Homo sapiens: one gene and its partners. The protein of the gene in region 5 purifies or fractionates together with the protein of the main gene of each other region. This does not show direct contact. Each region holds a gene or a part of one and is shown on either strand. Other genes may lie near its edges.

What was found.
Region 1: the proteins of PTPN12 (region 5) and PAICS purify together in Homo sapiens (affinity purification with mass spectrometry, with the first as the bait; one large-scale study listed by BioGRID). This does not show direct contact.
Region 2: the proteins of PTPN12 (region 5) and PLOD2 fractionate together in Homo sapiens (co-fractionation; one large-scale study listed by BioGRID). This does not show direct contact.
Region 3: the proteins of PTPN12 (region 5) and NUSAP1 fractionate together in Homo sapiens (co-fractionation; one large-scale study listed by BioGRID). This does not show direct contact.
Region 4: the proteins of PTPN12 (region 5) and FLNC purify together in Homo sapiens (affinity purification with mass spectrometry, with the first as the bait; one large-scale study listed by BioGRID). This does not show direct contact.
Region 6: the proteins of PTPN12 (region 5) and ARHGAP10 purify together in Homo sapiens (affinity purification with mass spectrometry, with the first as the bait; one large-scale study listed by BioGRID). This does not show direct contact.
Region 7: the proteins of PTPN12 (region 5) and PRPSAP1 purify together in Homo sapiens (affinity purification with mass spectrometry; one large-scale study listed by BioGRID and IntAct). This does not show direct contact.

The regions. Positions count from the first base shown.
Region 1 is NC_000004.12:56,439,260-56,442,759, reverse strand, and holds part of PAICS (bifunctional phosphoribosylaminoimidazole carboxylase/phosphoribosylaminoimidazole succinocarboxamide synthetase), read right to left. Parts: intron 1,098-3,500; coding exon 900-1,097; intron 1-899. UniProt on the Homo sapiens protein: Bifunctional phosphoribosylaminoimidazole carboxylase and phosphoribosylaminoimidazole succinocarboxamide synthetase catalyzing two reactions of the de novo purine biosynthetic pathway.
Region 2 is NC_000003.12:146,077,685-146,081,184, forward strand, and holds part of PLOD2 (procollagen-lysine,2-oxoglutarate 5-dioxygenase 2 isoform 1 precursor), read right to left. Parts: intron 1,574-3,500; coding exon 1,432-1,573; intron 241-1,431; coding exon 178-240; intron 1-177. UniProt on the Homo sapiens protein: Forms hydroxylysine residues in -Xaa-Lys-Gly- sequences in collagens. These hydroxylysines serve as sites of attachment for carbohydrate units and are essential for the stability of the intermolecular collagen cross-links.
Region 3 is NC_000015.10:41,335,881-41,339,380, reverse strand, and holds part of NUSAP1 (nucleolar and spindle-associated protein 1), read right to left. Parts: intron 1-3,500. UniProt on the Homo sapiens protein: Microtubule-associated protein with the capacity to bundle and stabilize microtubules. May associate with chromosomes and promote the organization of mitotic spindle microtubules around them.
Region 4 is NC_000007.14:128,843,906-128,847,405, reverse strand, and holds part of FLNC (filamin-C), read right to left. Parts: coding exon 3,493-3,500; intron 3,403-3,492; coding exon 3,140-3,402; intron 2,749-3,139; coding exon 2,151-2,748; intron 1,417-2,150; coding exon 1,243-1,416; intron 1,106-1,242; coding exon 943-1,105; intron 662-942; coding exon 501-661; intron 1-500.
Region 5 is NC_000007.14:77,599,795-77,603,294, reverse strand, and holds part of PTPN12 (tyrosine-protein phosphatase non-receptor type 12), read right to left. Parts: intron 2,632-3,500; coding exon 2,489-2,631; intron 1-2,488. UniProt on the Homo sapiens protein: Dephosphorylates a range of proteins, and thereby regulates cellular signaling cascades. Dephosphorylates cellular tyrosine kinases, such as ERBB2 and PTK2B/PYK2, and thereby regulates signaling via ERBB2 and PTK2B/PYK2.
Region 6 is NC_000004.12:147,861,088-147,864,587, forward strand, and holds part of ARHGAP10 (rho GTPase-activating protein 10), read left to right. Parts: intron 1-3,500. UniProt on the Homo sapiens protein: GTPase-activating protein that catalyzes the conversion of active GTP-bound Rho GTPases to their inactive GDP-bound form, thus suppressing various Rho GTPase-mediated cellular processes. Also converts Cdc42 to an inactive GDP-bound state.
Region 7 is NC_000017.11:76,347,417-76,350,916, forward strand, and holds part of PRPSAP1 (phosphoribosyl pyrophosphate synthase-associated protein 1), read right to left. Parts: intron 1,166-3,500; coding exon 1,113-1,165; intron 1-1,112. UniProt on the Homo sapiens protein: Seems to play a negative regulatory role in 5-phosphoribose 1-diphosphate synthesis.

The DNA of each region.
Region 1 (3,500 bases), on a different chromosome or scaffold from region 5:
TACCAGAAACTCTAAGAAATGAAAGGGCAACTGGGAATATTGGAATTAAAAGTAAGGAAAGTTATTAAATTATAAAATTAGAATTGGCAAGAATGATAAAGAAAAAGCTTTTATTTCATAGGTAAGGTTTCGTAGGTTGAATGATCCAAAGCAATGAGGCTATTTACACTGTGTGGCAAGAGTTCAAATCTTTTCCTAGCTGAAATTTCATATACTACAGACCAACCAGCAACTGACTGAATCCCTGCAGAAAACCCCTTTATCCTAATTTCCTTCCCTTTGCTTCAAATACCCACCACACAATGTTCTGATCTTCATTTGGTCTTTTGAATCTATTTCTCTATTGAAAATAGAGCCTTCATTCAGTTTTTGAACAGGAGGGCGCTCTGGGGTTTTAGTTCAAATATCTCACTTGGGGAATGGCAGGAGGAGAAGGTTTGGTTGCTGTCTTCAACTACTTTTCAGGGCTTTCAAGTGGAAGAGGAATTTGAAATTCTGTATTATCTCCCAGAGGCAGAACAAAGACCATTTGTATAGAATTACAGGGAGTAAATTTCAGTTCTTCATGTTAGAACTGCTTAACATTAAAATGGGTTTCCTTCATAGTTAAATTCCTTAAAGTGAAGATGGCCTTGGAGAGGTAAGCTGCACAGAGAGTGCATGTGCCAGATAAAGATTACAGCAAACTTGTTAAGATTCCTTTTAATTCAATGATACTAATAATCCCAAACCAAATAAGGTGTTATAGTGAAGTTTAAGGGTTCTTGGTTTGATTTAAATTCACTTAGCTTTTGAGACATCTGCAAACAAGTTGTTCATATTAATGCCAACTTCACATGAAAGACATCGACATGCTTACCAGAGAAGGTGAGAGAAGAGACTTTGAGGGAGCTGCTTACCTGCTTCCTGTAATAACTGAAAAATACAACTGGTGATTTTATTTGAGATTGCAGCTTTTCCTTCCAGGTGGTTTTTTCTAGCTGCATTTCCTGCTGTAATCTGGTCCTTGGACTGCAGGAGGACTTTTCCTGGACTGTCTAACAATTCGTAGACTTCTTTTGTTTTACCCTCATATAATTTTTTACCAATGTTCAGTACTGTGGAAATAAAATGGAAATAGACCAAAATTCAGAAACTTCCTGAATGCTGAAGACTAAATCACCTAGAACAATTAATCTGTAAATATACAGTGATTAAGTAATATTAATAAAAATTAAATCATCTGTATAAAACCATATACTCTACAATGTATTTCTCATACCATCACATTTGATTCACATGATCTTGTGAAGAATTTTAATTACATAAATAATTGTAGAAATTAGTAAAGCAGAAATCAAAAGGGTTGAGGGTCATGCAGTTAGGAAATATAAGAGGTAGATAAAATCCTAACTCCTCTGACATCAAATCCTGTGCTCTTTCCACTATTAACCTGCCTCTCATAGCAGAACTGAACTAGAATTAAAATTAATTAAGACCCACTTAAAGTAATGTAACTATACTAGTATTTTCACAGACACACTCACAGTATAGTATCTAAACTATCTTGCAGGAAAAAATATGCGATTTTTGCTGATATTTGCTTTTTTGTAGGCAAAATGGGAACATTCAGCCAGATGAGTTTCTTGATTTCAAGTTAATATTCAAGAGGAGGCATGCCATCCCATTGAAGTTAGCACATTTGGAAGCATCCCTCTCTATTTCTTAATCCTGTCCCTGCCCCCATTAATCCTTTCTCTTCACTAACAGTTGTAAGAAATTGTGAGGAAGTGAGCACAAAGGAATCCAATTTTGATGCTGGTCACAAAACCTAAGAAGTACACAAAAGGATGATTTAGAGAAAGAGTAAAGATAACAGATGTTTAGGAACTTAAAATTTCGAAAGAGAGAAATCAACCCTCATACTTCCACAACACTCTCAGTATCAACATTTTCCCGGTGTATCCATGTGCCAAGGGATGTACCAGTAAATAATAATTCCTGCTCTCAAGAGACCTGAGTCTGAGGGGAGCTGATATTAAATAAGACATCATAATAATAGAATGCAATAAATACAGACTATGGGACTAGTCTAGACATTAGAAAAAGAAGTCTACAAGAAAGTGACAGGTTGAAATCTGAAGAATCATCGAAATTTAGCCAAAGGAGAGAAAGGGGTAGGTAGTGTTGATGAATAAATACAAGGTGGTCAAAGTGGATTGCAGAACTTCAGTCTGGTTGGAGCTGGAGCTCTGGGTATATGTACATTGCTGTTGGGCAGGGGAAGGGGTGGGGGCTGCAGCTAAAGAATGGCAGGAGACAAGACTTAAGAGTTGGACAGGGGCCACATCACCAGCTAGTGGAGGTAACCATTAAACAAAGTAGTTGTAATTTAGTTAACAGTTGCCACTGTAGGGCACCTAATTTAGAGGATGAATCTCTACCCTCCCTAATGTAATGTCTAGACTCATTAACATGGTTTAAAAGTCCCTTTAAGATACAGCCCTGGCTTACTGCTCCAAACTCTTATTTGTCTATTTCCTATCTAGAACTCCAACATCTTTAATTCTTATACAATCTTCCCCTAGCTTCTGACAATCTCTTCTTTCCTAGGCCTGGAAAACTTCCCTTCCATTTTGCTACACATCCTTCTTGTTTCACAAGCCATGCTGATTGAGTTTAGACTTTAACCCAAGAAGAGCTATAAGGCTTTTAAGTGCTAAAGCAAAACGCTATTTGGAAAGATCATTACGGCTTCTGTATGGACAATGAAGGGAGGAAGGGGTGAGTGAACAAAAACTAGAGCTTGGAAGACCAGTTAGGATGCTGTTGCAGTAACTTGAACAAGAAACGTCTGGCCAGGTGCAGTGGCTCACATCTGTAATCTCAGCACTTTAGGAAGACAAGGAGGGCAGATTGCTTTAGCTCAGGAGTTCAAGACCAGCCTGGGCAACAGGGCAAAATCCCATCTCTACCAAAAAAACAAAAATTAGCCCAGCATGGTGGTGCATGCCTGTAGTCTCAGCTACTTGGGGAGGTCGAGGCCGCAGTGGGCCAAGATTTGCACTATTTCACTCAAGCCTGGGTGATAGAGTGAGACCCTGTCTCAATAAAAAAAAAGGAAAAGAAAAAGAAATGTCTTGGTCTAAGGAAAGAGTAGTGGGCAAAGATGCAAGATATTTAAGATAGTAGCTTTGAGAATTCATCATGGAGGATAAAAGAGAGGGAAGGGTAAAGAACAGTGGGCCGGGAACAGTGGCTCATGCCTGTAATCCCAGCACTTTGGGAGGCCGAGGCGGGCGGATCACTTGAGGTTAGGAGTTCAAGACCAGGCTGACCAACATGGTAAAATCCTGTCTCTACTAAAATTACAAAAATTAGCCGGATGTGTTGGTGCACGCCTGTAATCCTTGCTACTTGGGAGGCTGAGGCAGGAAAATCGCTTGAACCTGAAAGGCGGAGGTTGCAGTGAGCTGAGATGGCGCCACTGCACTCCAGCCTGGGCAAGAGAGGGAGACTCC
Region 2 (3,500 bases), on a different chromosome or scaffold from region 5:
TCACACAAGACCCATGCCCAAGTCACACAAAACACGCAAACACACAGATGACTGATGAAAATCAACATTTTACCAAGCTAAATGCAAATAAGGCCCTTAAAGAAACTTTACTACTAGGCAATATACTATATCAAATATTAAATAAACAAAAATAAATAAAATAAGTAAAAATAACACCTTTGGGGGGCTGAGCATTTGGAATGTTTCCGGAGTAGGGGAGTCTTTTTCCCTTTGTAAAGTCTAAAATGAAGAGAAGCATTGGGTAAGTTGACCTGTACACCCGCTCTCTCAGGTATTCTTTGGTAAATAAAAATAATAGCAGCTGTTGATCAAAAGCTAACATTCTGAAATGTCCTTCATAGACAACATGCAGAACAAGCAAAGCTTATAGCACACACAAAGAAACATCTCCAGCTCTTTCAGCCCTTCTTTTCTTTTCTTTTTGGGAGGTGTGGTGGGGTCAAACATAAGTCTAAGCTCATTCCTTAGCAGAACTTTCATTAGACACATAAGACAACGGAAAAAATGAGTAAGAGAGGCCATTCCATGATGCGCTGTTGAGTCAAATTAGCCAAACATGAGCACAAAATACTATCACAAGTACTGAGGATATTCAATAATAATGCACACAGGTTTGTAGAGAAAACAAACATATTCAAACAATACATGCTTTGTTAAACTAAGAAAAAAATACTTGCCAACTTTTCTGACTTTTCATCAAATCACAATTGCTTATATAAATTTGGAAATCGGAAATAAAATAGCCCCATCATTTCTAAAACCAAAAATCATATCAATATATTCTAAGCCATGTTTATGCATTTTGAAAAATTATTTTCTAGTCATTTTAAGTTTTATAATAAAAGTACATTTGTAGTGCAGCAAGGTATCATTAGTATTTTATTTAGAGTAAATACACTATGTATCTCAACACTTCTACTAGTTTGGTGGTAATAATCCTGCTTTCTAAGAATGTGAAGTTAATAATAATTTTAAAATTTTACCTAGTTAGAGAAAATGTGGACATTAATTTTAGAACAAAAATATTCTTAAATCTGGAAATATTGTTTCATCGAAGCTTATCTAATTAATTTTAATTAGGTCAAGTTTTCACTATAGAATTTCAAATTAAAGATGTATTCTTAAAAGAGCAAAGCTGATTTGTAACAAATACATCTTTATTACTGAAATCCAACTCGGTTGCCTATGAATTAGCCCGAGCACAAAAACTAACATTTTTCATACCATTTCTATAAGTAAATGTTAAATTATCTCCAAAATTACTCCCAAATTTTTTAACACAGAACCAAAAAAATTGGCTAGTACTTACAAATTAGCAAGACAAAGGGCATCAAAACACAGTGACACACCAACTGGTAAAGCAAGCCATCTTATAAGAACATTCAAGCAAGCCATCACTGCATATCTTACCATTTCTCTAGCATTTCGGCAAAGAGCCATATCAGGATCCAGTTTATCACGAACAAAATAGTTCCTTTCATTCATCTCTGATCGGAGTGTCTTTCCTTTAATTAAGTACACATTAGCCATATATGGGACATTCCATACTCCTCTGAAAGTAAAGAGAAGACATTCTTATATACCACAAATACAAACAATTTTAAGTTTCATTTTTACCTTTTTAAAATAAATGCTTTGTGTTTAGATTTTGTATACATAAATTATTGAATCAACATACAAATATATTCAATGATATATATATAAGATTACATTGTATACACTATATTTAATGAGATTTAGGAGATAAACCACTGCCCCTTTGGATACATTTCAATTTTGGGTTGGTATCTGTTTGGCATTTGTATTATAGCTATCATATCTCAATCAGTTGTTACAATTAGACTATTATAATCTATTGTATAGACGGTGTTTCTATTTAAAATTAAAGAATTTGATAGCATGAATCATAACATACAACCAGTGGTGCACTAGACCCAGCTCATACTGGCTCCCCAAAGTTAACTTTTTCTGCCAAGTCCATGTTCAGTAATTTCACATTGGAAACTTGAAATCAGCCATGGTAGAAGTATTTACACCAAACAAATGGGCAAGCACTTTAAATCAGGGAATCCTCCACCTCCAAAAGCCAGTTGTTACACATTTACCAAAATACCACTGAATATAGCCTAAAATTCTCCAAAATTATATTCTCTTACCATTCATTAAGCCATCTTAAATATTTTATAGAAAAAGGAAAACATGAAGAAATACAGCTGGGAGCACATGAACGTTGCATCCTTTCCCACATCTATATTCTCACTCTGAACATGACTGATTTCATAAAAACTGCAAAACAAGTTTTGCCCCTAAGACTGTGCGCCTTTCTTTTAGAGAACATCAAGGCAAGATCTTGACCAAGAAATGCAGTTAGATATTAACGGAAATATGATATTATGTCTTACTAGACTAGCCTCAAAGAAAAATGCCTTAAGGAGTACAGCAGTCCCCGCCTTATGTGAGGGTGATACATTCCATGACCCCAGTGGATGCTTGAAAGCAGATAGTAACAAACGCTACACATACACTACGTTTTTTCCTACACATATATACTTATAATAAAGTTTAATTTATACATAAAGTACAGTAAGACTAACAACAATAATAGAACAACTATAACAATATGCTGTAATAAAAGTTACATGAATGTTTACACTTTCTCTATCTCAACATATCTTCGTATTTTCAATCCACAGTAGACTTGAAACCATGGAAAGCAAAACCATAGATAAAGGGGAATTACTGTATACAACGTGTCAGCTAAATTCAGAAATTAATCTCTGGGGAATTATTCAGTGTTTCAACTTATACACACACACATACACACACACACACAGTTGCTCCTTCGTGTAGCTTTTGGACATGAAGTGTATTCCAGATCAAAAGCTTCTGCCATATTTTTTTCCTTATACTTTAGACAAGAATGACAGGAGGTTGGACAGAAAATCACCAATGCCTAAAGCAACTTGAAACAAATTTTCCATTCTACTTTCACAAACCCTCATTTGTGATGTGCCCAAAGATACAATCAGGTATATTGTCTATACAACTCACCCAGAGTCAATACAACTGCACAGAAACAACAGAATACGATCTTAATAGTCTTTTCTCCTCCACTGTGCATTTTAATTGCAGCTAACAAAAACCTTTATTGTATTTACATCATTCAGATTGAAGCTTTCCACACCAATTACTATTTCCACAAGCAACACATCTTTTTACCACTCAACTGTTTGAACAGAAACGTGTGCCTTTTTTTTTCTAAATGTAAGGGCACATCCTTTTAGTCCTGAGAGTATACTGCCCCTTTTTAATCAGGCTGACATGTTTGAGAACTAAGGCAAAGCATGTAATGTCTTAGTCACTCTGGTCCATCATATGTATGAAAAAAAGAATGACATTCTTCTCCAATATTACCTTAGCAAAACTATTTCAATTGTGATTATTTTTAGTAATCAACCATTGTCTCTGAAATAAATATA
Region 3 (3,500 bases), on a different chromosome or scaffold from region 5:
ATTTCCCACCAAGATTCAATAGTCATTTGCATTGTCTCATATTTGGTTTCTCTATATTAATATATAATTCTTGTGAAAGAATTTGAAAATAAGTTCCAGACATCATGATTCTTTACCACTAAATATATCAGCCACATCTCCTAAAAATAAGAGATTTCCCCACATGATCCTCTAATGCATTAGTGTACTCAGGAAAAGCAATAATTTCCTAATATCACCTAATATGTGGCCCATAATGAAATTTCCTTCTCTCCAATTTTAGCTATTTTCTTTTTAAAAAAATTTCCCTCCAAATCAGGGTCAAACTAAGTTTCTCTCATTACACTGGAAAGAGTTTAGATTTTATTTTAGATGTGAGGGAAGTCATTGGAGGGCACTGAGCAGAAAGACACGTTCTAAGTTTATTTTTTTTTTTGGAGACAGAGTCTCGCTCTGTCGCCCAGGGTGGAGTGCAGTGCCGTGATCTTGGCTCACTGCAGCCTCCACCTCTCAGGTTGAAGGGATTTTCGTGCCTCATCCTCCCGAGTAGTTGGGATTATAGGCACATGCCACCACGCCTGGCTAATTTTTGTATTTTTTTTTTTTTTAGTAGAGACGGGGTTTTGCCATGCTGGCCAGGCCGGCCTTGAACTCCTGGCCTCAAGTGATCCACCCACCACGGCCTCTCAAAGTGCTGGGATTACAGGTATGAGCCACTGCGCCTGGCGCCTGGTCTCTCTCTCTTTTTTTTCTTTTCCCTAAGTTTCAAATATCACTCCAACTACCAAGAGAACACTATTGTGAGGTAAGAGTTGAGGCAGGAAGCCCAATAGGGAGACTGAGGCAGTGGTCAGGAGATGAGAGTGCTGTGGCACAGGTTTGCAGCGCTGGAGATGGTGCCCAGAGGTCAGATTTCAGGTCTATTTAGGAGGAGGTGCTGACAAGAATGGATGGCTGTGGGTGAAGAAGAGAGGAATCCAGGGTGATCCAAACTGGGCCTGAACAATGTACTGAGATGGGGAAGAGACTGTCAATGCTTGGACCTGACCGTGTTGTTGAAAATGCACTTAAATACACGAGTCAGCATCCCAGGGGAGAGAGAGGTCCTACTGGAGATGTGGGTTTGGGAGGCATTAGCTTTTGGGTAAATTTTAACTTATGGGAATGGGCCGGACGCAGTGGCTCATGCCTGTAAACCCAGCACTTTGGGACGCCAAGGCAGGTGGATCACTTGAGGTCAGGAGTTTGAAACCAGCCAGGCCAACATGGTGAAGTCCTGTCTCTACTAAAAATACAAAAAAATTAGCTGGGCATGGTGGCAGGCACCTATAATCCCAGGAACTCGGGTGGCTGAGGCAGGAGAATCGCTTGAACCTGGGAAGTGGAGGTTGCAGTGAGCCGAGATTGCGCCACTGCACTCTAGCCTGGGTGACAGAGCAAGACTGTGACTCAAAAAAAAAAAAAAAAAAAGAAAAAAGAAAAGAAAAAAAAATGGGGTGGATAAGATCACCGAGGGATAGAGCATAGTTAGAGAAAAGACAACCAGGAAGAGAGCCCTGGGGGCACTCCACATTTAGAGATCTGGCAGATGAAGAACCAACCAAGGAGACTAGAAAGAAGTGCTAGTAAGGCAGGACAGCGTGAAATATCAAAGCCTAGAACAGAAAGTGCCTGGAGCAGAGGGGAATGTTCAATCATGCCAAATGCTACTGATAGGCACAGGTGAGGGGAGAGAGGGAACACAAGCTTTGTAAGATGGCGACCTTAATAAAGCAATTTCAGTAGAAAAGAACAGAGAAATAGGGCAGTAGATGGAATGAGGACATGGGATCAGGAGAGGATTTTGGCTTTTTTATTTTTTTAAAAGATGGGTGATAGTAAAACATGATTGCATGCCTTATGGCAAATAAGCTAGCAGAGTGGAGAAATTAATGAGGAGAGAGGCTCTAATTGTAGGAATGTAGTCCTAGGGGAAGCAAGAGGGCCCAGGATCTTCAGCATAAATGGAAAGGTTGCCCTTAGACAGGCAAAGAAGCAGAGTATGTGGATGTAGATGCAGGGTGGCTAAAAGGTTTGGTGGTGGGGCCAAGCCTAGGGTCTCACGCCTGTAATCCCAGCACTTTGGGAGGCCAAGGCGCGAGGATCGCTGAATCTCAGGAGTTGGAGACCAGACAGGGCAACATAGTCAGACCTCATCTCTACTAAAATTCAAAAAAACACTGGCCAGGCAGGGTGGTCATGCCTGTAGTCCTAGCTACTCAGGGGGCTGCGGTGGGAGGATTGCTTGAGCCCGGGAGGTTGAGGCTGCAGTGAGTCCTGATTGTGCCACTGCACTCCAGAGAACTCCAGGCTGGCTGACAGAGCAAGACCCTGTCTCAAAAAAAAAAAAAAAAAAAAAAAAAGAAAAGGAAAGGAAAAAAAGGGGGGGATTTGGTGGTTGAACGATAAGGCAGTTTTCTGTTGATTGCATCTATTTTCCCATGACCTATGAGGTAAAGTCATCAAGGGAGGGAAGGGAACCAAGTTGAGTCAAGATGATAAAAAGTAATTATCCTCAAAAGTAGGAAAGTTCATGACTAAGAAGAAAATGGGCCAGGTGTGGTGGCACGTGCCTGTAATCCCAGCTACTTAGGAGGCTGAGGTGGGAGGATGTCTTGAACCTGAGAGGTTGAGGCTGCAGTGAGGCCTGATTGTGCCACTGCAGCCTAGGCAACAGAGCGAGACCTTATCTCAAAAAAAAAAAAAAAAAAAAACCAAAAGGAGGAGGATCAAATGCCCATATTAAGGTTTAGCGTTGCATATTTAAAATAAGTTCGCTCAACAAAGTTAGGTGTTTTCTCCAACTAGAGTTAGCTGCAGAGGTATAGGCAAAGATTAAGCACATAGCTGGGTTTAATCAGGCTTGGGTTTTGCCAGGTGAGTATAGGGAGGTGCAAGGAAGTGGAAATAGTGCCAGTGTTTGTAATTTAAGCTCGCAAGAAAGGAAGTGAGGGCATGAGTGACAACAGGACCAGTCGCCCCACTAACATTAATAACTGGCTCCTTCAAATTGCTATACCATTAAGAGAAGTCTCTCAAAAGAGGGAATATTATCTCCTATATATTTATTATTATTATTATTATTATTATTATTTTTAGACGGAGTTTCGCTCTTGTTGCCCAGGCTGGAGTGCAATGGTGTGATCTTGGCTCACTGCAGCGTCTGCCTCCCTGGGTTCAAGCAATTCTCCTCTCCTGCCTCAGCCTCCCGAGTAGCTGGGATTACAGGTGCCCCCTGCCACGCCTGGCTAAATTTTGTATTTTTAGTATAGATGGGGTTTTGCCATGCTGGCCAGTCTGGTCTCAAACTCCTGACCTCAGGTGAGACACCTGCCTTGGCCTCCCAAATGCTGGGATTACAGGTGCAAGCCACCATGCCCGGCCATAAATTTATTTTTAATAATATCATACTAGTAAAATTATCAAGATTTGATTAAAATAAAACATTACAATTTAAATAAATTTTACTAGTACAAATATAC
Region 4 (3,500 bases), about 51 Mb from region 5:
TCTGACACTGTGGCTGAAATAATAAAAAGATGGGAAATTAGATAAGGGAAAAAATTTCCAATTTCAGCAGTCCCAAGTCATACAATATTTGAAGACATGACCTGCCCGGGCAGCTGGGTCTGCAGAGGGCAGGGGAGTTCTGCAGACGATGCGTGCAAGAAGGCCCAAGGCTGGCCTGAGCCGCCAAGAGGAGTGGACTGTGTCTGAGTTTCTGGACACACAGTGAGTGGTGGACCTGCAAAGCCAAGGTCTTGAGCTCCAGACAAGGGGCTAGGAGGCCAGAGTGTGTTCCTGTGATTGACTAGGGGGGCTGTCACATCAACCCTCATTGCCTGCCTCCTCCACGTCCTCCCTCTGGCCGGGCTCCGGCCCCAACCCACTCTAGGCTGTCCTCTCTATGAACATTCTTACCCAACTTCCTTCCAGTTTCCCCCTTGTGGGGCGAGCATCCTGCACCCTCCCTTGTCTTCCCTGAGACCCCGACCACTCTCTCTGCACACCTGGGATGGGCCGCCCCCCGAAGGTGATGTTGACGTCATAGTCTCCAGGAGTGAAGGGGATGTACTCCACGGTGCAGCTACCATCCTTGTTGTCCTTGCAGGACATCTTGGCTTCCGAGGGACCCTCGATGGCTAGGCCAAGGCCCCCGGTGCCCGCTCCCCTGAGAGATAACATCCCCCCATCAGCTTCATAAGACCAGTGAGTGAGGATGAGGGAGTAGCTGAATGGGGGGACAGGGAGGAAAGAGGGCAGGCCGCTGGGGACCCAGCTGAGGAGAAACGAGCTACAGGGGCCAATCTGGGGTCCTGGAGGGGGTCTGCTCCTGCCTCACCCCTGAGAGAGGATGGGGTGGGGCTGAGGCCCAGGCAGAGGGATGAGCGAGGAGGGCCAGGGGCTGGGAAAGGGTGGTCACAGATTTAGGCTAGCAAAGGGGGAGGATACCTGGTCTCCACAGTGAATCGGTTGGCCTTGTTGACCAAGCCACCCTCCAGGCCTGGCCCGAAGGCTCGGACGCGGGTGGGATCACAGCCCTCGGTCACGCCCACTCGGAAGGGGCTCTTGGGCACAGCGACCTCATCATACAGGACCTCCACCAGATGCACGCCTGGAAGCCAGCCACAGGGGCATCAATCAGGGAGTGTGCGCCCCCACCACCCCTCCTGCCCCGAGGGCAATATCATCAGATCCCGGCCCTGCCCACTTGCCCAGCCCTGCCCACTAGCCTGGCCCACCGGCCCTCACCCTCCTCGTAGGCGGTGTACTGCACTCGGTAGGTGCCGTCCCCATTGTCTGTCACATAGGTGTCTGTCTTGGCCCCCGAGGGGTTGAGCACACGAGCCGTCACGTGGTTGCCGCCTGTGGCTGTTAGGGATCTTGCATCCACAGTGAACTCAGTGGTCACCTCCCGCAGGACACCTGGAGCCCAGGGGTGGCGTGTTCAGCAGGGGTGGGGGCAGCCTTCACACAGATGCTCCCTCTCCTCTCCCCCTCCTTTCCCTCTCCTCTCCCTCTCCTCTTCCCCTCCTCTTCCCCTCCTCTCACCCTCCTCTCCCCCTCCTCTCCCACTCCCCAACTCCCAGGCTGCTCCTCTAATCGGAGCCTGGGCCCCACACCCTCCCCTGCACCTCTGTGAGCTCCAGCCTCTGCCTTCACTCCCTTCTCCATGTAGTGACATTCTCTGTTCACTTGAGTCACCCACCAGGCTGTGGGCCTGGGTCTTGCATCCCTCTGCCGTGGCCCATGCCTAGCCAGGGTCTGGCCCCTGGCAGATGGCCCATTCCCACTTACTGTCTTCTGACTCTTGTCATCCTCTACCCCAAAGCTTTCCCCGTGCCCCCGTCCAGAGCAGAGTTTTAGCTTTTTGGATCAGGGTACCCCTTAAGCACATGAAAGAAGAGATCTCTCCAGAAAAACGCCCAGAGGCAGGTGCAGTTTTGCCACAAGAGCAGAGGCCAATCTCCACCCCCGGTCTTCCCCTCCACTCCTTCTCTGGGGTTTCTGGGCCAGTAAGGACTCTGGGGCTGCTCCGAGAGCCCTCCCTTCACCCCAGGTTGCTCTTCCAGCTCTCAGCTCTTCTTCCCTCCCTCCCACGGACTACCCAGCTCCTGCACCTGCCACTTGACCTTTCTTGGCTCCTCCTGTCCACTCACCGTGTGGCTCAACACCAGGCCCTGAGACCTTGACGCCACTGGTATCGACCGCAGGCTGCACATGGACACGGGTGGGGAATTTGGGCACGGGATGCCCGCCATACTTGATGGTAATGGTGTAGGTGCCAGGGAAGGCAGGGCTGTAGGTGATGTGGTAGGTGCCATCCGCGTTGTTGTGGATCAGCACCTCGGCCTTGACCCCGGCATCCGACAGGATCTCAATGGTCAGCTCCGCCTCGCCTGCCTCTGAGCAGTCCACAGTGAAGGTGGCTGCCTCACCGACCTTGCCGCGCTCCAGGCCCGGTCCACTGGCCCGCACCTTGCTCGGGTCAAACACAGGCCGAATGGTGGCTTTGAAGGGCGAGCCAGGGATGTGGGCCTCAGCAAACAGGATGTTGATGGTGTACTCGCCAGGCTCCGTGGGCAGGTAGCTGACAGCACATGAGCCATCACCATTGTCCTGGCACTCGATCTTGGCCTCGCAGGGGCCCTCTACGGTCAGCCCCAGGCCACCTGTGCCAGCCCCCTTGGTGTCGATGGAGAATGGCGCGGGGGTGCCTACCAGTCCACCCTTGAGACCCGGGCCATAAGCACAGACCTAGGGGAAGAGGCAGGTTGTGGGTTCCCTGCACCTGGCCTCCTCATCCCAGCCTTCATGGCCCCCACCCAACTCATCACCTCCAACTGTGGCTGCTACTGTGGACTGAGTGCTTATAACAATCCCAGGTGATGACATTGAGGCAGCGAGATGAAGCAATTTGCCCCAGTTAGTGGACCTGGGATTCAAGCCCAGGTGTGACTCCAAGGCCAGGCTCTTAATAGCTAAGTTGTCTCCAAGGCAGGTGGTGGGGTGGGGCTGGCCTCAGCCCCACACCCTTGGCTGTGCCCACTCCAGGCACATAAGTCCCTCTGGCCTCTGCCCCCTATGACTCATCTATCTTCCCAACAAGTCCCCAACTCCCAGCCCCAACCAGCTCCTATCTCCTCACCTTGGAGGGATCAGGGGGCAGGACACCCTCCACAGCAAACGGGCTGCCAGGCACCGGGTGACCATCGTAGGTGATATCCACCTTGTAGGGCCCCTCCTCCGGGGGCATGTAGCGCACAGCCTGGGCTTCCGCTCCACCGCCTGGCTCCAGCTTGCAGGGGATGGGCCGGCGAGAGGGCGAAGTCATCCGCACATCCAGTTGGCCCTGACCGCCAGCCCCTCGTGTGTTCACAGAGAATGCTTGTTCCTGTCCCACAGCCACCTCTGCGTGGAGGGCAAGTGACACCATGAGGAGACTCCGGTCCACCCTACCCGAATACCCCTCACTCCCAGGGTGGCTCTTGCCCCACTTACTGCTATTA
Region 5 (3,500 bases):
AGCCTTCCTATACAAATGGATTTATGATTGAACAGGAAATTATTTTAACTAACTTATAAGAAGTCAAAGTGAAAGCAATTTCTTTATCTTTTAATTCTATAATTAAACATATTGTTTATTTTTAACTGGTCAATCCTACTTAATTAAATGGTCAACTAACCACTGAATTAACCACAGAAAAAAATAGTTTTAATGAACCAAGTTGTTAACTGATTCCCACATCTCCACCAGCAAGTTACTTTCCTGGCCCATGAATAAAAAGTAGCCCTTTTACTTCGTTAATTATGAGCATTACGGTCAAACCAAGTGAATAAGAAAACTATCTTCAATGCTTCAACTCCACTGAAAAAATATTTTAACTATGTAAATAATAAAAAATAAATCTCTTAAGTTTGAAAAATCTCATTTACTTTTTATAACAAATGTGAATGCAGATAACAAGTCCCTTAGAGGAATAAATTGATAGCAGTCTTATGAAGTAAGTACTATGACTGTAAGGCCTTTAGAAGAATCTAATGTAAACTAAAAATTCAGAGTAGAAAAACTGTCTAAGGATTCAAGTAGCTTCTACTATGTAGAAACCCATACCTATATAATGAAATTCCAAAAATTAGGTTTCAAAATATCCTGTATCACCCATATTATAATGATACCTATATTCTTTTTTTTTTTTTAAAAGATAGGGTCTACTATGTCACCCAGGCTGGAGTGCAGTAGTGTAATTGGTGTCTACTGCAGCCTCAAAGTTCTGGGCTCAAGCAATCATCCTGCCTCGGCCTCCCAAAGCACTGAGCCACTATACCCGGTCATGACACTTATTGCAAACATTTATTATTTTCTTGACTAATTCAGTTTTGTGCTTTTCCTCTTAAAGGGGTATTTTCCATTACACTCCTAAATCCATAATACAAATTTAGCTTTGTTTTATGTATTACATATAATGTATACATATACATATATGTGCATATGTATTATGTATATTTAGCTTTGTATTATTTGTATGAGAATGACCAGATGACAGAAATAAGCCAAAATGTTAGATTAAGAAAAGTTGGTTATCTTAAACTGATTTCTCTTAGCTAAAATATATTATACATTAACCCCCCTTCTAGAATACAAAATTAACTGCCCCCCAAGAATAAACAAATCTCATGTTCATTCCCCCAAAGTCAAAGGAAGAGTTTACATGATTTCTTAACACATCCAAACGAGTAATTTTGCAAAACCTAACTGAACTTCAAATATTATTTGAATAAATGAAAAGATTTATATTGTGCAATTTAAAGTAGGTGCACCTATACTTGTCCTTTCACATTCAGAGGTAGCTTAACTAGGTCAGTAATCATTGAATTTTATGTAATCCTTATAATGAAGTAATCTACTATAAAACATAATAAAAATGTCTAGTAAATGTGTATCAATAGTTTTTATTACTTTACTACAAGAATGCTTGCTTCCGGCTTTAAATTTTTCAGTAGCTATAAATTATAAAATTTCATGATATGACAGGAAGTGGTGCAAACGTGGAAACTGATGTTCCCCAAGAATAAAAACAGCATTTAGTTTTTCATCAAACTAAAACACACTTTTTCATCTCAATGTAACAGCTCTGAGATTGGTATGTATCTTACCACCAATGGCTTCTTACAAATGACATTGTCCCCTTATAATTGGCAGTGATTTTTTTACTGTTAATATATATAATAATGGTGTGTCTTAGAATTGATGATATCTTAGATCAATAAGACCTACGTATGTACATCTTACATATATTAAAAAAAGAAAGTCATGTTGCCAGGCGTAGTGGCTCACGCCTGTAAGCCCAAGACTCTGGGAGAGCAAAGTGGGAGAATCACTTGAGGACAGGAGTTCGGATCAGCCTGGGCAACAGAGCAAGACTTGGTCTCTTAAAAAAAATTTTTTTTAATTAAAAAAAATTAGTTCAGTGTGGTAGCACATGCCTGTAGTCCTAGCTACTTGGGAAGCTGAGGCAGAAGGATCACGTCAGGCCAGGAGTTTGAGTTTACAGTAAGCTATGATTGTGCCACTGCACTCCAACCTGGGCATCAGAGCAATATCCTGTTTTTAAAAATCTCATGTCAGTGTTTATCAGGAATGAAAATTGCTTGGTCATTGTTTCAGGGAAATTGATTAAAAGAAAATACTACCATACTGACTTTAGAAAGTAGAGTATGATGAGGATCTGAGATTATATGCTCTAATCAGTGAACAGTAAAAAGAGTATGTTCTATAGCTTCCCACCATGTGAATACTATTTTCAAATAGATGATCCTGTGTTTTAATGCAACAATACTCTAAACGGTCTGTCAACCAAATGAGACCACATCAACTTACAAGGCCCTAGTCCCAAACATTGTATCAAGGCTAGGAGAAATTCAAGATTACTAACATATTAATGCAGAAATAAAACCTTGTGTAACATCAAACTTAAATAATGTATTTATAAACTTGGGAAATTCTTTTGTACCTGCAATGAATACAAATAGGAACATCTTCATGTTCTTGATATTTCCTCATTAAGCTTATCATGTCCAGAATAGAATCAAATGATGAAGGAACATCATGGTCTGGCCAGTTCACATAATGAAACTGATACAGCCTACGAGATTCCTTCAAGAAAAACAGAAAGTCAACAATTATGAAAATACTTTGCAAAGTTTAAAGTTGCACAGCTCATTTAAACTGCCATTTCTAAGAAATTTGTGTGGCATTTAGCACTGCTTTTAAAAAAACCCAAATAAATAATAGCCAACACTTATTGACTGTTAAACACATGCCAAATACCTAAGGGCTTCACATGTAACAATTTAATTTCCATGAGGAAAGTACTGTTAATACCATCCTCATTTTATAACTGAGATATACAGATAAAATAACTTGCCCAAACTTTCCTAAGAAGTGACAAGTGTGGGCTCTAAACCAGGCAGTTCTACTTCCAGAGCATGTACTGTAAACATAACACTATATATACTATTTAACTAATCTACACTATTAAATGGATGAGCAATATACCGTAAGCACCATGTTAGAGTAGGTTAGAGTAGTATTCATTGTAATCAGAAGACTAACAGAACATTAAACTGAAAAAGAATGGAGAGATGAATTTGTCCAATGCCAAACTCACTAGTCTTCTTACAGATTAGTGGTTCTCAATATACGGTCTGGGTACCCCCTCCCCTCAACCCTTTTGAGGGAGTCTATGAGCTTTAAATAATTCTCAGAATAATACTAAAATGTTACGTGCCTTATTCTTTAACAGCCAATACAATATATGCTTATGTATTCATGTTTTTTAAAAATTTCTCAGTTTTAATTTCAAATATAGTATATACTGAAAGATACAACCCCCAGAAACAAAAACTTTGGGATCCTCAATAACTTTGAAGAATGTAAAGGAGTACTGATGTCAAATGTTTTGAGAATGGTTATTGCAGGTGTTTAACAGAAAGAGCAATACTCGGAATCTAAGCAAACCATAC
Region 6 (3,500 bases), on a different chromosome or scaffold from region 5:
CTCGGCTTGTGCTACTGGCCTGGATCTCATGCCTGCCAAGGGCGAGCCAGGCACGGAGTGGCGAGGAGTTCGTGAGTGAGTTCAGGGTCATCCGGCCACTGTGCACAGCCGGGCATGCCGACTGTGGTGGGGCAGGCAGCTCCAGGCACAGGCACTGGCTCCGTGCAAGGCTGTGGCTGGACCAGGCATACTGCAGGTCGCTTCCATTGTGGGCACTGGGAACACGGTGGCACCCGGAAACTTGGAGACACCAGGAACCGCAGAGCCCCAAAGAGGATGTCACAGCCCTGGCTTAGGGAGCCCCTAGGTCTGGGCTCCCCGAAGGGCCGCAGCTCTTCTCTCCTTCTCGTCGCCCACAATGTAGTGAGCAGGGGAGGGGGAGGATCACCCCTGTTTGTGTTACAGCTCTTTCAGTCTGGCCATTCCTTGGGTCCCAAGTTCTTGTCCCACATCCAAGAGGAATGAGGTATGGAGACAACTGGAGGGTGAGCAAGGTACAGGGGAACTTCATTGAGCAACAGAACAGTTCTCAGGAGACCTGAAGTGAGTAGCCTTTTTCTGCAGGCAGGTCGACGTAATGAGTGTCCAGCTCTCACTGGAGAGGAGACCTGTAGTGCATAGCTCCTTTCCACAGGCAGGTCATCCTGACTAGTGGAGGAGACCCCCAGAGGGTTGCTCCTTCCAACAGCTGGTAGTCCCCATGTCTTTCTGAGTCTGGCTGAGTCCAGAGTTTTTCTGGGCTCAGAAGGGAGGAAGTGTGCTGATTGGCCCATGCGCAGCCATGAGTGGGCCTGGAAAAAGCACCGTAAGTTTTCATCCCAGGCTGCAGACTCCACCTAGAACTGGCAGCCCAGCGGCTCCCAGGCTTCAGGCCATCCCTGGCTTGAAGCTGGGGTTTCACCAGGGACCTGTCTGTCCCTTCCCACCTAGGAACCTGTCTCCCGCAGCTGTCAACATGTCATCCATGGCGCCCAAGGTATTTGTGCCAAGAGGTGCCTGCAGGCCCCTGTTAAGCTGCTCTCAGCCCCCTGGCCTCCCTCCTGTGCTTGTTGGCATCCAAAGTCCAGAGGGGGCCGAGCTGGAGGTTGGGGTTACCAGGGGCGCTGGCATGTCAGAACCACCCTGTGTGCATGCATACCCGGCTGGGTGGCAACAGTACCTGGGCTTGGCTACAACTTTGCTCCACACTGCATCAGGCGCCGGGAGCCGGGAGAGGCCAGGGAGCAGGAGCAGGCACTTCTTGAGCCTGCTGGTGGGGCAGTGGGCCTTCGCCGGCCCCCAAGAGCACAGGGATGCCCTGGTCCAGAGCTGTGGCTGCACGGCTGCAGCTGTGTCTGGGAGCATGGGGCTCCTGCCCTGATAACTCTGTAGAAGTTGGGGCTCCTGCCTGTTTCTGGCCCCCGCGGGCACCATGGAGTGCGCAGCCCTGGCTGCACTTTGCCCTCTGCAGCTGGTGTCCTCACAGCGGCTGCTCCAGACTGGCCGCTGCTGCCATCATTGCCAGTAATCCCAGGGATTCTGGTGATTTAATCACAGAGCATGTGGCACAACAGTTCTGGATTTTCAGAACATTAAGGGGGTGGTGATAGAGGTTGACTGGTAATGCAAGGGTAATTACAGTAGCAAGAACAACCAGGAGAGAGAATTTACTAAAAGATAAAATCAAATTGATAAATCTGATGCTGGTATAAATTTCTTCAAGAGCCTTTGCAGTAATAACAAATGAGGAAATCACCCTTCTTATGTCTTTATTAAATAGTCAACAAAATTACAGTGTTTTTGCTGGGAGATGTGCCAACTAACTGCTGATGGCTGAACTATCAAACTCTGGTTATTGGAGGCACAAAAATATGATTCAGATGAGTGTTAGGTAGAAATTCTCATTTTAGCTTAGTAATATATATTAAAGTATTTGCTGAAATGGTTTTTATTACATTTTGAAATGTGTTTCAAATGTGTTAAATGCTTTTCAAAAACAACACATTTTTGGTTATAAAACGTGAATAAAATTTCAATAAAATGTATGATTTTATTTTAAAGTCTATGGCCCAGTGGTATTAAGTACATTCACATTGTTTTGCAACTGTCACCACCATGCATCTCCAGGGCTTTTTAAAAAATCTTCCCAGACTGCAGCTCTGTACCTATTAACAATAACTCTCCATTCTCCCCTGCTCCAGCTCCTGGCAGCCGTCGTTCTGCTTTCAGTTTCTATGAATTTAACTACTCTAGGTGTCTCATGTGAGTGGGATCATATAGTATCTGTCCCTTTGTGACTAGTTTATTTCACTTAGCCTGATGTCCTCAAGGTTTATCCATGTTGTAGTATGTATCAGAATTTCCTTCCTGTCTAAGGCTGAATAATATTCTGTTATACATATGGATTGGCTACATTTTATTTACTCATCCATCCATCCATGGGCATTGGGGTCACTTTGCCCCCTGCTGCTATGAACAGGGGTGTACACATATCTGTTCGAGTCTCTGCTTTCAGTTCTTTTGGGTATATGCCCAGCTGTAGAATTGCTGGGTCATGTGGTAATACTATTTTTCATTTGAGGGAAAAATTTATTTTAATTTTTTGCTGGGAGTTGTGCCTGTTAACTGCTGGTGGCTGAACTATTGAATTCTGGTTAATGAAGCCACAAAAATATGATTTTGAGGAGTGTTAGGTAGAAATGTTCATGTTAGCTTAGTAACACGTTATGTTTCAATATTATTTTACTTAAAGCACTATTTTTCACAGTGCTTGTACCATCTTGCATTCCCACTAATGATGCACAAGGGTTTCAGTTTCTTGACATCCTCACCAACACCACTACTTTTCTTTTTTGTACAGTAGCCACCCTAGTGAGTGTGAGGTGGCATCTCCTTGTGAGTTTGATTTGCATCCTAATGATGAGCGATGTTGAGTGTCTTTTCACATGCTTATTGGCCTTTTGTATATCCTCTCTGGAGAAATGCCCAGATAAATATTTTTAAGAGTAAAATTAGCTAAGTTAGGAAAAATATCACATGATACCTAGTAAGAATGGTTTCTTGGACATGAGTTCTCTCTCCACTATTCTCTGTGGAGTCCTGCTCTTCTCCCAGTTCCTTTCTAGTTAGGCAAGCTAAGCTGGAAGCTTTTTTTGGAATAGCGTCCTGACCAGCTGGTGCCCCCTTCTCTCCCAGGGGATCAGACGTTCTGAGGGCCGCAGATGGGCGTCCAGCCCTGGCCCGCCTTTGAGAGCCGGGTTCTTGAGATGCTGCCATGGCTGGCTCCTTCTCACTTGCCGCCATCACTCCCTGAGCGCTGAGGTGCTGGGCCCTTTCTCAGGCAGACTTTATTCCTAGAGGATTTGTTCATCGAAATGTTTGTTGATTGTGATTGCATGTGGTTCAGCCTTGGGGCATCAGTTGTGGTTGGGGTGAGTTTTTCAAGAAGAGAAGTCCCTTTGATCTTCAGTTCTTGGGGGTCAACTTCAACAAACAGAGTAGGAGTCACAAGCTTTTTCTGC
Region 7 (3,500 bases), on a different chromosome or scaffold from region 5:
GTGGAGGTTGCAGTGAGCCAAGATCATGCCACTGCACTCCAGCCTGGGTGACAGAGCAAGACTCCGTCAAAAAAAAAAAAAAAAAAAAAAAAAAAAGAAAGCAGACAGAGTGAGGGGAAAGAGAGAGACAGGAGGTCAGGGAGCCAAGGGGCCAGGACTTGCAGGACTCTGGATTTCATTTCTTACTCGCTGAAGAGTCTGGAATTTATTCTAGCAGTGACAGGAAAGCCACTGGAAGATTTAAGGTTGGGAAGGGTTTCATCTACTTGTTTTAAAAAGACTGCTGGCTACTGTGTGAAGAAAACCGTGGCAGGGCAGGAGTGGCCACGGGGAGGCCATGGCGTCTGTTTTGGAAGGTGTCTAGCAAGCAGCAAACGGCAGGCTGGACTTAAGTGGGAGCAGCAGAGGTTGTGAGAAAGGGTCAGATATAAGATGTATTCCAAAGTCAGAGCACACAAGATGTGGTAATGGGTGGATCAAAGATGAGGCAGGTAAAGGGGTAGAATCTGGATTCCCAAAGGGCCCCATGTGATTGCTAAAAAGACTGGACCCCAGCCTACAGGGTAGGAGTAAGGAAGCAGTAGTAAGAAAAAATATTTGCATTTTAGAAATAACGTGGTGGAAGCCGAGTGCGGTGGCTCACGCCTGTAATCCCAGCACTTTGGGAAGCTGCGGTGGGAAGACTGCTTGAGCTCAGAAGTTCAAGACCAGCCTGGCCAACATAGTGAGACCCCATCTTAATAAAAATAAATAAATAAATAAATAAATAAATAAAGGCTGGGCACAGTGGTCATGCCTGTAATCCTAGCACTTTGGGAGGCCGAGGCAATAGGGTCCCCTGAGGTCAGGAGTTTGAGACCAGCCTGGCCAACAGGGTGAAACCCCATCTCTACTAAAAATACAAAAATTAGCCGGGTGTGGTGGCGGGCGTCTGTAATCCCAGCTACTCAGCAGGCTGAGGCAGGAGAATTGCTTGAACCTGGGAGGCAGAGGTTGCAGTGAGCCAAGATCATGCCACTGCACTCCAGCCTGGGCGACAGAGTGAGGCTCTGTCTCAAAAAAACTAAATAAATAAAAAATAATTTTAAAAAAAAGAAATAATTTTAACTTACCTCCATTGGTCTCTTGATATACAACAGACTTCCCCAATTCAGCACCAAGGCGCCTATAGATCAAAAAGAACAAAAAAGGGAAATTAAGATTACTCTTTTTAAAAAAATTCCAGTTCATATGCATATGTCTAATAAAAAGACTCAAATAATTAAGCTGCCATTCTTTCCAAAAAATAATTCAGAAAATCTAATTCATTAAACTAAAATTCTGCTGTCACTCCATAAGCAGCTCACCACGTTGTAACATACTGCTTTACCAGACAGAGCTCACAACCCATGGTTAATGTCTGGTGCGCGTTGTTCTTTGAATAGTAATTTTCTTGGAAAATCACTTCCAAATACTTGGTTACAAGCAATGATTTCAATAACACACACCAGAGATAAATGCCTCAATTATCAAAAGCATAGAGAAGGAAAGAGGCTTCAGCACTCTGACCAAATGTGGTGTGGATCTTGTTTGGATCCTAATTAGAATAAACCAAGTGTAAAAAGCCATTTTTGGCCAGGCGTGGTGGCTGATGCCTGTAATCCCAGCACTTTGGGAGGCCAAGGCGGGCGGATCACCTGAGGTCGGGAGTTTGAGACCAGCCTGACCAACATGGAGAAACCCCGTCTAAAATACAAAATCAGCTGGGCATGGTGGAGCATGCCTGTAATCTCAGCTACTAGGGAGGCTGAGGCAGGAGAATTGCTTGAACCCGGGAGGCGGAGGTTGTGGTGAGCCGAGATCGCGCCATTGCACTCCCGCCTGGGTAACAAGAGCAAAACTCCGTCTCAAAAAAAAAAAAAGCCATTTTAAAAAATAATCAGAGAAATATGGACAAAGACTAGATACTACATAATATTAAGGAATTAATAGTAGTGTGAGGTTTTAAGTCCTGATTAGTAAGCATTACTCTTTTTACAAGTGAAATGATATGATGTAAGATAATCTATTTAAAAATATTCCAGGCCGGGTGCGGTGGCTCACGTCTGCAATCCCAGCACTTTGGGAAGCTGAGGTGGGCGGATCACCTGAGGTCAGGAGTTCGAGACCAGCCTAACTAATATAATAAAACCCCATCTCTACTAAAAATACAAAAATTAGCTGGGTGTGGTGGCGAGCGTCTATAATCCCAGCTACTCAGGAGGCTGAGACAGGAGAATTGCCAGAATCCAGGAGGCAGAGGTTGCCGTGAGCCGAGATCACACCATCGCACTCCAGCCTCGGCAACAGGAGCGAAACTCCATCTCAAAAAATAATAATAAAAAAAATAAAATTAACATCTCCAGCCAGGCCAGGCGCAGTGGTTCATGCTTGTAATCTCAGCATTTTGGGAGGCCAAGGTGGGCAGAACACTTGAGGCCAGGAGTTCGAGACCCGCCTGGGCAACATGGAAAAACCCCATCTCTACTAAAAACACAAAAATTAGCTGGGTGTGGTGGTGGGCACCTGTAATCCCAGTTACTTGGGAGCTGAGGCACGAGAATCACTTGAACCTGGGAGGCGGGGGCTGCAGTGAGCCAAGATTGTGCCACTGCACTCCAGCCTGGGTGACTTTATCTCAAAAAAAAAAAACAACAAAACTCCAGCCAGGTATACACATACAATGGAATATTATTTGGCCTTAAAAAAAGAATAAATTCTGCAGCCAGGCGCAGTGGCTCATGCCTGTAATCCCAGCACTTTGGGAGGCCGAGGCGGGCGGATCACGAGGTCAGGAGATCGAGACCACCCTGGCTAACACGGTGAAACCCCATCTCTACTAAAAATACAAAAAATTAGCCGGGCGTGGTGGAGGGCGCCTGTAGTCCCAGCTACTCGGGAGGCTGAGGCAGGGGAATGGCGTGAACCCAGGGGGCGGAGCTTACAGTGAGCAGAGATCGTGCCACTGCACTCCAGCCTGTGCGACAGAGTGAGATTCCGTCTCAAAAAAAAAAAAAGAATAAATTCTGGTACGTGCTATGACATGAGGGAGCCTTGGACAAGGTATGCTGAGGAAAATAAGCCAGACACAGACAAACGCTATGATTCTATTTGTATGAAGTCCCAAGAATAGGCAATTCATAGAGACAAAGTAGAATGGAGGCTACCAGGGAATGGGGACTTAGTATTTAATGGGTACAGAGTTTCTGTTTGGGATGATGAAAAGTTCTGGAAATGAATAGTGGTGATGGTTGTGCAACACTGTGAATGTAGTTAAAGCCACTGAAGTGTACACTTAAAAATGGTTAAAAAGGTAGGCCAGGCACAGTGGCTCATGCCTGTAAAGGCGGCACTTCGGGAGGCCAAGGTAGGTGGATCACCTGAAGTTGGGAGTTTGAGACCAGCCTGACCAACATGGAGAAACCCCGTCTCTACTAAAAACACAAAATTAGCGGGGTGTGGTGGTGCAGCCTGTAATCCCA